Regions from separate parts of the Homo sapiens genome. Here region 2 is linked to region 1. The links come from fine-mapping of genetic effects on gene expression. A gene starts in region 1. The other region holds a variant in brackets. All regions are shown on one strand. Distances are from middle to middle.

Region 1 (5,357 bases):
TGTCATGCAAATATTTCTCTTATTCTGTGGCTTGGCTCTTTATTTTCTTCACGGCATCATTCAAAGAGCAGCAGTGTCAGTCATGGTTTCTGCCTTCTTTCTTCCATCTAACAGGTCTTTGCCTGTTCCAAGCCCACAAACACTTCCTCTTGAATTTCCTTCTAATGGTTTTATAGTTTCAGCCTTTATACTCAGGCCTATGGTTGGCTTTGAGTAAATTTTGCATATAATATGAGGTAGGAATCTACGTTCTTTCAATCACATAGACACATAGATATGGCCGGGCATGGTGGCTCATGCCTGTAATCCCAGCACTTTGGGAGGCCGAGGTGGGCGGATCACGAGGTCAGGAGATCGAGACCATCCCAGCTAACACGGTGAAACTCCATCTCTACTTAAAAAAAAAAGCCAGGCATGGTGGCGGGCGCTTGTAGTTCCAGCTACTCAGGAGGCCGAGGCAGGAGAATGGCATGAACCTGGGAGGCGGAGGTTGCAGTGAGCGGAGATCGCGCCACTGCACTCCAGCCTGGGCGACAGAGCAAGACTCCGTCTCAGAAAAAAAAAAAATCACACAGATATTCTTATTTTTCTTCTTTCTTTCTTTCTTTTTTTTTTCAGTAGAGACGGGGTTTCATCATGTTGGCCAGGATGGTCTTGATCTCTTGACCTCATGATCCACCTCGGCCTCCCAAAGTGCTGGGATTACAGGCGTGAGCCACCACGCCTGGGCTTTTTTTTTTTTTTTTTTTTTTTTGAGATGGAGTCTCGCTCTGTTGCCCAGGCTGGAGTGCAGTGGTGCCATCTCGGCTCACTGTAAGCTCTGCCTCCCGGGTTCACGCCATTCTCCTGCCTCAGCCTCCCGAGTAGCTGGGACTACAGGCGCCCGCCACCACGCCCGGCTAATTTTTTGTATTTTTAGTAGAGACGGGGTTTCACCGTGTTAGCCAAGATGGTCTCGATCTCCTGACCTCATGATCTGCCTGCCTCGGCCTCCAAAAGTGCTGGGATTACAGGCGTGAGTCACTGCGCCCGGCATTTTTTTTTTTTTTTTTTTTTTTTTTGAGACAGGGTCTTGCTCTGTTGCCCAGGCTGGAGTGCAGTGGCGTGATCTCGACTCACTGCAACCCCTACCTCCTGGGTTCAAGTGATTCTTCTGCCTCAGCCTCCTGAGTAACTAGGATTACAGGCATGTGCCACCACGCCCAGTTAATTTTCATATTTTTAGTAGAAACGGGGTTCCTCCATGTTGGCCAGGCTGGTCTCGAACTCCTGACCTCAGGTGATCCGCCCACCTCGGCCTACCAAAGTGCTGGGATGACAGGCGTGCGCCACCACACAGGGCCTCATTTAAAGATTCTTTATAGAGATGAGGTGTCACTACGTTGCCCAGGCTGGTCTTGAACTTCTGGCCTCAACGGACCCTCCCGCATCGGCCTCCCACGGTGCTGGCTGAAGGGTGAGCCCAGGCTGGCCACAGCGCGTTTTCATCATTGTCCGCAGCTTGCAGTCGGCTGGTTCAGAGCTTAGCCGGGCACATGGGCCCCTCTGAGGCTCCTGTTCAGGGCTCAGCCGTGTCTACGGGGCCCTCCGAGCTCTTCCTGGACCCTCCTCGGCTCCTTCAGTTCAGGGCTCAGCTGGGCACGTGGGCGCCTCCTTGGCTCCTCCGGCTCAGGCCTCTCCTCGAGCTCTGGGCCCTGAGTATTCTGGGCTCCTTCCTTGGTTTCCTTTGGCCTTTGGCCGGGAAAGTTGTGGGTGTCCGTGGCAGCCTGGGCCACTTCACAGCCCCGCAGCCAACCTGCGGCTCCTTCAGAGCAAAGCTGTGTGGACACAAAGGGAACGCCACTCGGAGCTGGCCTCTCCCTTTACCTGTGAGTTCCCGCCCAAGCCGGCTGCCTTCTGTCCCCTCCCCAGAGCCCTTGGGTAACTGGTTTGCTACAAGAGTGTCTGGAATTTTTCAGTTGTTCTCTGCGGAAGGGAGTTTTTAAAAGGCCCTTAATCCCTTCTTGACATTTGTAAGTTGACGCTTACACCTGGCAGCCTTGCTGAATTCTGTGTGCGTGAAGGTCCGATTCCACCGCGAGTCACGATAGAAAACCCACTCTGTGGAGAGACCAGAGATGACCGCCGCGCACACCTCCGTTCAGCACACAAACCTTTGCAGGTGTTCATAGCGGAGGCAGATTCCGTACTGGGGATAAGAGCTCACGACATGCTGGGAGGGGTTTCAGGGGCAGGGAGGGGGCTTCTGTGGCCCCAGGTCAGGAGGAGCAGCTCTTCCATCAGCAGCAGGCAGCCAGCCCAGATGCGTAGGGAAGACAGCTCCCACTTCGCCAGGCCAGAGAGCGCCCGGGGGCAGCTCTGTTCCAGTCGACCCTGCGAGAAAGGGGTGTGCGTGTGCCTGGAGCTGGGCCCCGTCCTGCCTCCCTGACCTGTGTGCTCCCACAGCCCTGAGACGGACGGCTCACAGCCTTGCGAGGCCCACACTGCACTGGGGGTCAGGCTTGTGCTCCCGGGAGTCCTGTCTGGGCTGCGTGGCCACCATCCAGAGCCTGCTGACCTGCGACTGGGGGGGCCAGTGCTCCCTGGGTTTCAGCACCTGAGAATCAGAGTGGGATCCCGTGAAACCTGGGCCCAGGCTCCCACCCACGCCCCACACCCACCCAGGGAAGCCATGAAACCTGGGCCCGGGCTCCTACACATGCCCCACACCCACCCAGGGCAGCCGTGAAACCTGGGCCCGGGCTCCCACCCTCGCCCACCGAGGGCAGCTTTGCCTTCCTGGGCATCCCTCCTCCCCCAGGCCTGGCCCGCTGCCTGTCCAAGGCTCCTGTGCGGGGTCTCCACCCACACATTCCTGGGGCGTGAGGCGCCACCACTCCCTGCTGCCCCGGGCAAAGCCGTCATTTGTTCCCTTTGACGGCCCGGGAGGCTGCCAGGCTCTCCACCCCCACTTCCCAATTGAGGAAACCGAGGCAGAGGAGGCTCAGGTGTGGCCAATCACCCTGCACATCAGAGTTACCCTGGGCAGGGCCCACTGAGACCTGGGAGGGGCCACTCGGGACCTGGAGGGCTGGGGGCTGCCCGGGCGTTAGGGGTAAAGCTCCCTACCCAACTGCGCAGAAGGCCTCAGAGGCCTGGGGGCTGGGCTTCCCCTTTCACATCGCCCTTTAGAGGCCCACGTGTGGGCATTGGCCCGCGATCTGAAAGGGGCTGTCCTGTTCCTCATGGGCGCTGCCAGCGCCACGCACTCCTCTTTCTGCCTGGCCGGCCACTCCCGTCTGCTGTGACGCGCGGACAGAGAGCTACCGGTGGACCCACGGTGCCTCCCTCCCTGGGATCTGTAAGTAACAACCTTTGAGCTCTTCCTGTTGTGGTGTGGATGGAATCTGCACCTTCCATCTGGAGAACTGGGGCCGCCCCAGGCCGGGCTTCCAGCACCAGAGCGATGGTCAGGCTTCAGCTGGACGCAGATTTCACCCCGCAGGGCACACGCAGACCCATTTGTTTGGAAGCGGCAGTCCTAAGGCAGTGCAGGTGCCTCCACGGCCCCAGCCCAGCTCTCCTGCAGGTGTAAAGGATGCAGATTCCAGGGCCCCCCATGGCCTGCAGAGGCCCCTCAGAGCAGGAAGGGCCGGGCTCTCGGGGAGCCCCCATCCCAGGTGCTGAGGTCCTTGGGTCACATGGAGCTGGGGTGGGGAGTGCCCAGGTCCCCTGTGATCCGATGGCCACGTTTCCCTCCTGGCTTCACGCACCCCAAGGGCTGGGGGTCCCACTCACTGCCCATTTTCTGGCTGTGGGGGGGGTCTGTTTTCTTCCACCTTCTCAAGGTGTTCAGAGCCTCAGGGGCCTCCCCACTTCCTCTGGGGCCTGGGGGAGTAGAGTCTGTCACCCGGAGGCTGTGTGCCTCCCCGCGACATTCCCCAGTGGCCGGGCCGACCAGGCAGGCTCTGCCTGTGGATGGGGCTGCTGAGCATGAGCGTGTGACCCCCATTTCTGAGCTGTGGGTGGACCCACCGGGCCTGGGCCAAGGTTTTCAGGAGGCAGCTCTATTCTACTCCGCCATGGTGGCCTCCCTGAAAGGGGTGAGTGTAGAAGCCAGTTCCCTCTTCTGCGAGCCCCACCCCTACCCCAGGAGGACAATTCTTGTTCAGGGAGGGTCTCCCCACCCACTTCCCCACCCCACAGTGGCCCACAGGCCCCACCCTAGAGAGTACAAGGGGCTCCCCAGGCTGCTCACTGGCCCAGCCCCGCCCCACCTGGACTGCACCTGAAAATGGGCTCAGAGAGGCCAAGTGGCCCAAAAAGACGCTGCTGGGTGGGAAGGGGCGGTGGCCTCTGTGCCCGCAGTGCCCCTCCTGCCTCAAGGGTGTTGTCTGCCTGGCAGAGCCTGGGGTGTTCACAAAGCCCAGGCACCTGCAGCTGAGGGCAGGGGAGAGGGAAGGGAGCCACATCCAGGCGACGGGGCTGCTCGTCCTCCTGTGCGAGAGTGGGGAGACTCAGGCCAGCCCAAGTGGGCGGCGGCCCCGGTTGCTTGATCTAAGCTCTGCTCACACTGCCCTGCCCTTCTGGGAGAGGGGTGGGCGCCAACTGACTCCTGGGCTGTCTGGGCTGGGGACCGGGATCTCAGACCCAGCCCCTCCCCTGGACAGGAGGAGCCAGTCCAGGGGACAGAGGGCTCAGTGGCTGGAGGGCAGGGCCAGGGTGCGGACACAAGCTGCAGGTACCACAGAAGTTTGCTCTGGGAGCCCCTCCTGGGCCCATGTGGCCCCAGGCTGGCCCAGGACAGAGGCGTGGGGTGGGAGCAGGGGGTCCCATCCTGAGTCACTGCCCTCCACAGACACAGACCATGGCCTTGCCAACGGCTCGACCCCTGTTGGGGTCCTGTGGGACCCCCGCCCTCGGCAGCCTCCTGTTCCTGCTCTTCAGCCTCGGTGCGTACTTGATGGGGCTGCTGGTGAGGTGGGGACGGCCCAGGGGCCTTGGGGGCCAGGCCCCCAGCAAGGCTTTGCCTGCCCCTGCCTTCTCCCTGGAGTGCCTGTGGTGGCCACGTCTCAGCAGCAGTCTCTGCCCCCAGAGGTGACTGGAGCTGGAGATCCAGCCAGGGAGTGATGGGGCTCAGGACACAGTGGGGATGTCTGTGGGATGGGTGGTCTGACCGGCCAAGCAGCCGGGTCTCAGGGAAAGATGTGGAAGGCCGGGCTCCCTGGTGGAGTCCCGACCCCTGTGCCTGGGGGACTGTGATGTCACGGGGTACATGGGCCTGAGCCACTGGCTTCTCTTTGGGGTGTGCACAGGGCTGGCTGTGGGGGCGGCCAGGCTCTGCCTCCTTCCTCCCCTGGGTCAGGGCACAGCCCAGA
Region 2 (5,357 bases), 23 kb after region 1:
ACGTGTAGGTGACAGTGTGCACAGGTAGGTGACAGCTGTGTGCACGTGTAGGTGATGGTGTGCACGGGTAGGTTACAGTGTGCATGGGTAGGTGACAGCTGTGTGCACGGGTAGGTGACAGCTGTGTGCACGGGTAGGTGACGGTGTGCACGGGTAGGTGACGGTGTGCACGGGTAGGTGACAGCTGTGTGCACGGGTAGGTGAAAGCTGTGTGCACGGGTAGGTGAAAGCTGTGTGCACAGGGAGGTGACAGTTGTGTGCACAGGGAGGTGACAGCTGTGTGCACGGGTAGGTGACAGTTATGTGCACGGGGAGGTGACAGCTGTGTGCATGGGGAGGTGACGGTGTGCAGAGGTAGGTGACAGCTGTGTGCACGGGGAGGTGACAGCTGTGTGCACGGGTAGGTGAAAGCTGTGTGCACGGGTAGGTGAAAGCTGTGTGCATGGGTAGGTGACAGTGTGCACGGGTAGGTGACAGTTGTGTGCATGACTCTGGCAGCGTGTGCGCATGTCCACCTGTGTTGCACATGTGTGAGATGGCAGGTGCATGTGTGTGAGCTCCTTCTACCTCCCTCCAGACGCCCCATGGCTCTGTGTTCTCACAGTGGAGCCCTGAGACCCCTAAGGCAGCAGAGCTGTGGGGGCAGAAGCCACCTTCAAGGGCCCCGGCTGCTCAGCTCTGCAGTGGGGGTCACGGCAGGGCCTCCCAGCAGGAACTGGGAGCCCAGCCCATGTTCCTGCTTTGGAAACCCAGCCCAGGAAGGGGGTTTGGGTGCAGGGGAGCCCCCTTATCTTGCTGGCCCTGGGGAGACCACGTGGTGAAGTCTCTTCTCCGGCAGGCGTCAAGCAGGGGTTGCCACAGCCCACACAGAAATCTGACCACGGCCTCCTGGGCTGCTGGGGCCCGGCCCACCCCTCTCAGGGAGGGTGAGGCATTGGGCAACCCTGGCCTCAGAGCCCAGCCCTGCCTGTGGCCGGACTGCCCGAGAGAACGCTGTCTCCACTCACCCCCACACCGTTTCCCCAGAAGCCATGTCCAGCTGCCTGGGCCAGGAGTGGCCCCCTCTAGCCAAACTTGCCTGCCCTGCCTCACCCTCCCAGGACCCCCATGCCTGCTGGGGAGGGCTGGGCTCACAGTGCCCTGGCAGCCCGACCCCCGTCCTGCTGCTGCTGGGCAGGGCCCACCTTCTCCTTCCTTGGCTTGGGACAGACCCTCGCTCAGGAGAATGGGGTGGCCAGGGCCCTGGGCACTCCCATGTCTACGGGATGGCTTTGCCATGAGGGCCTGGCACTCTGGAGGCCCCCTTTCTGCATGGAGGTCTCGTCTCACCCACTCTGGGGCCCACGTCTGTGCGGCGGCGTGCACTGGTCATCCTGGCTGAGACGTCCCAGGGCAGGAAGGTGCTGGGGCCAAGGGCAGTGGGTCCAGGACTAGCTGGAGAGGCGTGACAGAGGCGAGACACAGGTGAGACACACAGGTTGGCCCCGCACTGCCTCCCACCCCCTGGGGTGTGGAGAGGGAGGGTGCAGTCTAGGTTCACCCAGGGCAGCGGGGCCAGAGCTGCGCCTCTCCCACCTTCGAGGGGAAAGGATCCCATAAACAGTAAAAGGCAGGAGCAGGGAGCGGGAGCCGGGTGAAACCCTGGGGCCTTTCTTATTGCAGGTCGGGGCCTAGGGGACCCATGGGCTGCTGGGTCTCCAATGAACAGATTTCCAACAAACAGCGAGTCCCCCAGGCAGCCTCGTGCAGCCCTGGCTTCATCCCCACACCCGGCAGCCCTGGCAGCTCCCTTTCCCTCTTTGAGCCCCAGCTGTTGGGCTCTTTCGCTGACATCCAGCCCCCAGTGGCAGCTGGGGTAGCCTCAACCATGCTGGAAATGGAAGCTGCAAGGCCAGGGACCCTAGAGGAGTCCGGTACTGCTGTGGGTCACTGCCTCCTCCTGGAGCCAGCCTGATGGCTTTTGGGCACCTCTGGGCCTCCTGACTGTGGCCCAGGAGGGAGACAGGGAGGCTGCCCCATGCAGAGGCAAATGCAGAGGTTCAGGCCCAGCCACAGGTCCGGGACCGGCCCTGCGGGTGGGCTGGTGGTGGCTCCCGCCAGCGTTTCTCACCTGAGCAGAAACCCTGGGTGTGGTGGAGGGAGGTGCTGCCCAGGCTGTGGGGTGGCTGCTCCTGGCAGGGAGTTGTGGACCAGGTGATCCAGACGCAATCCCAGCCCGCCAAGTGCGTCAGCCGCTACCACTGAGCGCCCGGGTGCAGAGGCGGTGCAGGGCGGGGATGCCGGGGTCCCCGCTCACCTCCATGCCTGGCCTGGCAGGCGGCATGAGACTGCCTCGCCCCGCCCAGTCCCACTCCCACGGTGACGCCCGCCAGGCAGTCCTGTGGGGGAGGCCCGGGCTGTGCCAGGCGATGCACCGCGTCAGCCCCTGGGGACCTCAGGCACAATGGGCACCTACTCCCTTCCCCTAGAGCAAAGGCTGAGCTCACGGCTGGCAGCTGCCCAGCTCACACCCCTCCCCACCCACTGGGGCCCTGCTCTGCAGCGTCTGTGCCCCAGGGGTCATGTCGTGCGCCTGCACCTGAGTCTGCCGTGTTTGCTGGTGCCTGCGTGTGCACAGGTGCCTCTCGGGCCTCCTGGTCTGTGTGCCCGGGAGCACGGACACAGAT[C/G]CACCATGTGTGCCTCTGCGGGGACATCAGGCAGACGAGTACCCAATGCGGGGGCCAGGAATGGTGACGGCTGCGGCCATTCCGTGGGTGCCGCAGCTCAGAGGTGGGCAGGCAAGAGCACCCAAGTATGCACTGTCGGGCTCCACCAGGCAGGCCAGGGCAGGAGAAGACACAGGAGGGACTTCCCAGCCCACCTGCCAGGCTTCTCCCCTCACTGGGACAGGGTGCTGGGTGACCCAGGCTGAGCCCTGGCCTGGCCCACCTACCCCAGCTCTCATCTTGGGAGAGACTCAGCCCCTGCTTGGCAGGACCTGCAGCTCAGGTTCAGCTGTGGAACCACCACCCCCTGCACCACAGCTATGCTATGGGTGCCCAACAAGCCAGCTCCATGGCCAAGCTGAGACTTGACCCCCGATCTGGGTCTTCTGGAGGCTGACGGCAGGGGAACTGGTAGGTGACTGCTCCCCAGGCCTGCACAAGCCCACAGGAACCCAGGTGCCCCTTTGAGAGCTCTAGGCTGACAACGAGGCACGGGCACCATGAGGGACGGCGCTCAGGCCTGGCTTGTTGATGAGGGTCCGGCTCAGGTCAGGCCTTGAAGGCCCCTTGGCCGGCTGTCAGCTGGGCCAGCCCAGCTGGACACAGCGGCTCCAACAGCTGCTGTTGGGGCAGTGAGGTCGGCAGCCCCCAGTCTAGAGGGGTGGGGCCCCGTGGGGCAGGGTGGGGAGACTGTCCCAGCCAGAGAGGGGAGGCGTGCCTGGCCCTGACTTGGGCTGATTCAGACAAGGACCAGGAGGAGGCCTGGAGATAAGCCAGCCCTGGGGGAGGGGAGGCCGGGGCCAGGTGCCCGAGGGTGGACACGTCCCGGGGCTGGCCAGGGAGGAGCCTCGAGAGTGATGGGCGTGCTGGCCGGGAGGGCTTTGCTGCCGCACTCTGTTGGGGTGGCCGACTGGTGCTACTTGAGGGTTATGCGGTCCCTTCGGATCTGCACCAGCCCCTTCCTTTACAGATGAGGAAACTGAGTCATGGGAGCAGCAGCAGTGAGTCCAGGGCCTGTGGCCTCACCTCAGGGACTCTGGGGCTGGAACCCACGTCTCGGCTGAGGGCACGGTGGCAGCTGCCTCCAGTCGGGCCCCGGTGGGGACTCCGGGTCTGGAACCCGCGTCTCGGCTGAGGACACGGTGGCAGCTGCCTCCGGTCTGGGCCCCGGTGGGGACTCCGGGTCTGGAACCCGCATCTCGGCTGAGGGCACGGTGGCAGCTGCCTCTGGTCCAGGCCCTGCTGCTGTCACCGCTGGGGTCGTAACCAGGGTTTCAGGGCTGGCCCCGGAGCTGGACAGTGGCAGGCAGGGGCCAGGCGGACCTGAGACCAAGTGCTGGCCCATGAGATGCCCCTTCCACAGAGCTCTGAGACTTGGGCTCTACGAAGATCCCTGGCTGGACCAGCTGGGTATTCCCATGGCTCTGGTTGTGGGGGCTGGGGGTTGTCCGGGGCCGGCCCAGGGTCTGTGCCCAGGCCAAAGCTGCACGGTGCTTGCTGTCTGCAGGAGAGGCCGATAGGAGCCTGGACCACTGCGTCTGTCCTGGGTCCTGCTGGGGCCTCAGGGCAGGGAAGAGAGCTAGGAAAGGTCTGGGTGGCCAGACCTGTCCCTTGGAAGCCCCACTTCGGACACGTTCACGGTCATCCTTGGAGCCAGTCACTGAACATTTATTTGGAGTCCCTGGAGCCCTGCTGTAGCCAGGAGCCCAGGTTGTGGCATGGGGGACAGAGGAGGTGGGACCTGGCAGACCCACAGCTCCCAAGCTGGGGTCCCGGAGGCAGAGTGACAATGCATGGCTGTGTGGGAGCCAGGCAGGCGGTGACGTGGCAGAGCTGCCAGCAGGGGCCCAAGAGACTGCAGCAGGTTGGTGCTCACAGTGGATCTGAGGGATGGGCGTGCGTGGCAGGGCCTTGGCCATGGCCCCTGACCAACCCCTGTGCACCAAACACCACACTGAGCTCAGAATCCGGGCAGAGAGGGAACCACTGGTACAGTGAGGCCAAGGCACACGCAGCCGGGCCTGCAGACTCGAGCCCAGCAGGGACCATTAGGTCTCGGGAGGAGGCAGCTGAGGGCGACAGGATCTGCACAGAGCAGTGAGGGGCAGAGGACGCAGGGACCAGATGGGTCTCCCAGGCCAGGTGAGCCCAGAACGGCCCTTCCCAGCCCCTCTAGAGGGTAGGTTGGGGGCAGTAGCTCACCAGGCCCAGGAGCAGCCCATCCTGGAGGCAAAGCCTATCCCAAAACCTGGCCCTGCCTCTTCCTGAGGTGACCTTGAGTCCGTAAAACTGACGCCCCTGGGGTGACGCTTGAGAGCCGGAAGCTGTTCCAGGAGGAGGGAGGGGCCTCGGTTTCTCCCGGGGCATGTGGGCAGGAAGGCCCTCGGGATCCCGCATCAGTCCCACGGCCGCGGTGCGGTCGTCACCTGTGATCACGGCTGCCTGGCGCCCCCTGCCGGCCCCACCTCAGCCCTTCCTCGCAGGCCTGGCCGGGGCAACCCAGTGGGCCTGATGCTGCCTGGCACCTCGAGGCCCCAGAGCCAGTGAGCAGACGCTCGCTCGCCCATCTCCCTAGAGTCCCGCTGTGCAGCTGACACCCCCTGCCCCAGCCCCACGGCTCTCAGCTGTCCGGTTCCAGCGTCCACTCCGACA

Direction of the effects. Positions count from the first base shown, and alleles are read on the strand shown. Sizes are in standard deviations (SD) of each study's normalised expression.
For the expression in cartilage of the gene that starts at base 2,900 in region 1, C is the low allele of the variant in region 2 and G is the other (large effect, 0.90 SD a copy in Steinberg 2020).

Evidence for each region. PIP is the estimated chance that this variant, and not a neighbour inherited with it, causes the effect. A credible set is the group of variants that fine-mapping cannot tell apart.
Region 2: its variant is the best candidate, but not a certain one, in a credible set for the expression of MSLN in cartilage (Steinberg 2020, PIP 0.69).

The regions. Positions count from the first base shown.
Region 1 is chr16:757,835-763,191 of GRCh38, forward strand. MSLN (mesothelin) reads left to right here and starts at 2,900. Exons shown (of 18, transcript NM_005823.6): 1 at 2,900-2,987; 2 at 3,239-3,340; 3 at 4,838-4,931. The coding sequence starts at 4,847. RefSeq lists promoters at 1,481-3,330, 2,836-3,316, 2,838-2,856 and enhancers at 2,147-2,672, 2,838-2,856.
Region 2 is chr16:780,625-785,981 of GRCh38, forward strand. RPUSD1 (RNA pseudouridine synthase domain containing 1) reads right to left here. Exons shown (of 6, transcript NM_058192.3): 6 at 4,350-5,357. The coding sequence ends at 5,326. It also overlaps the pseudogene MSLNL. Among named protein-coding and RNA genes, the nearest start is that of RPUSD1, 5.1 kb to the right of the region's middle. The variant C/G (reference allele first, on the strand shown) is at 2,667.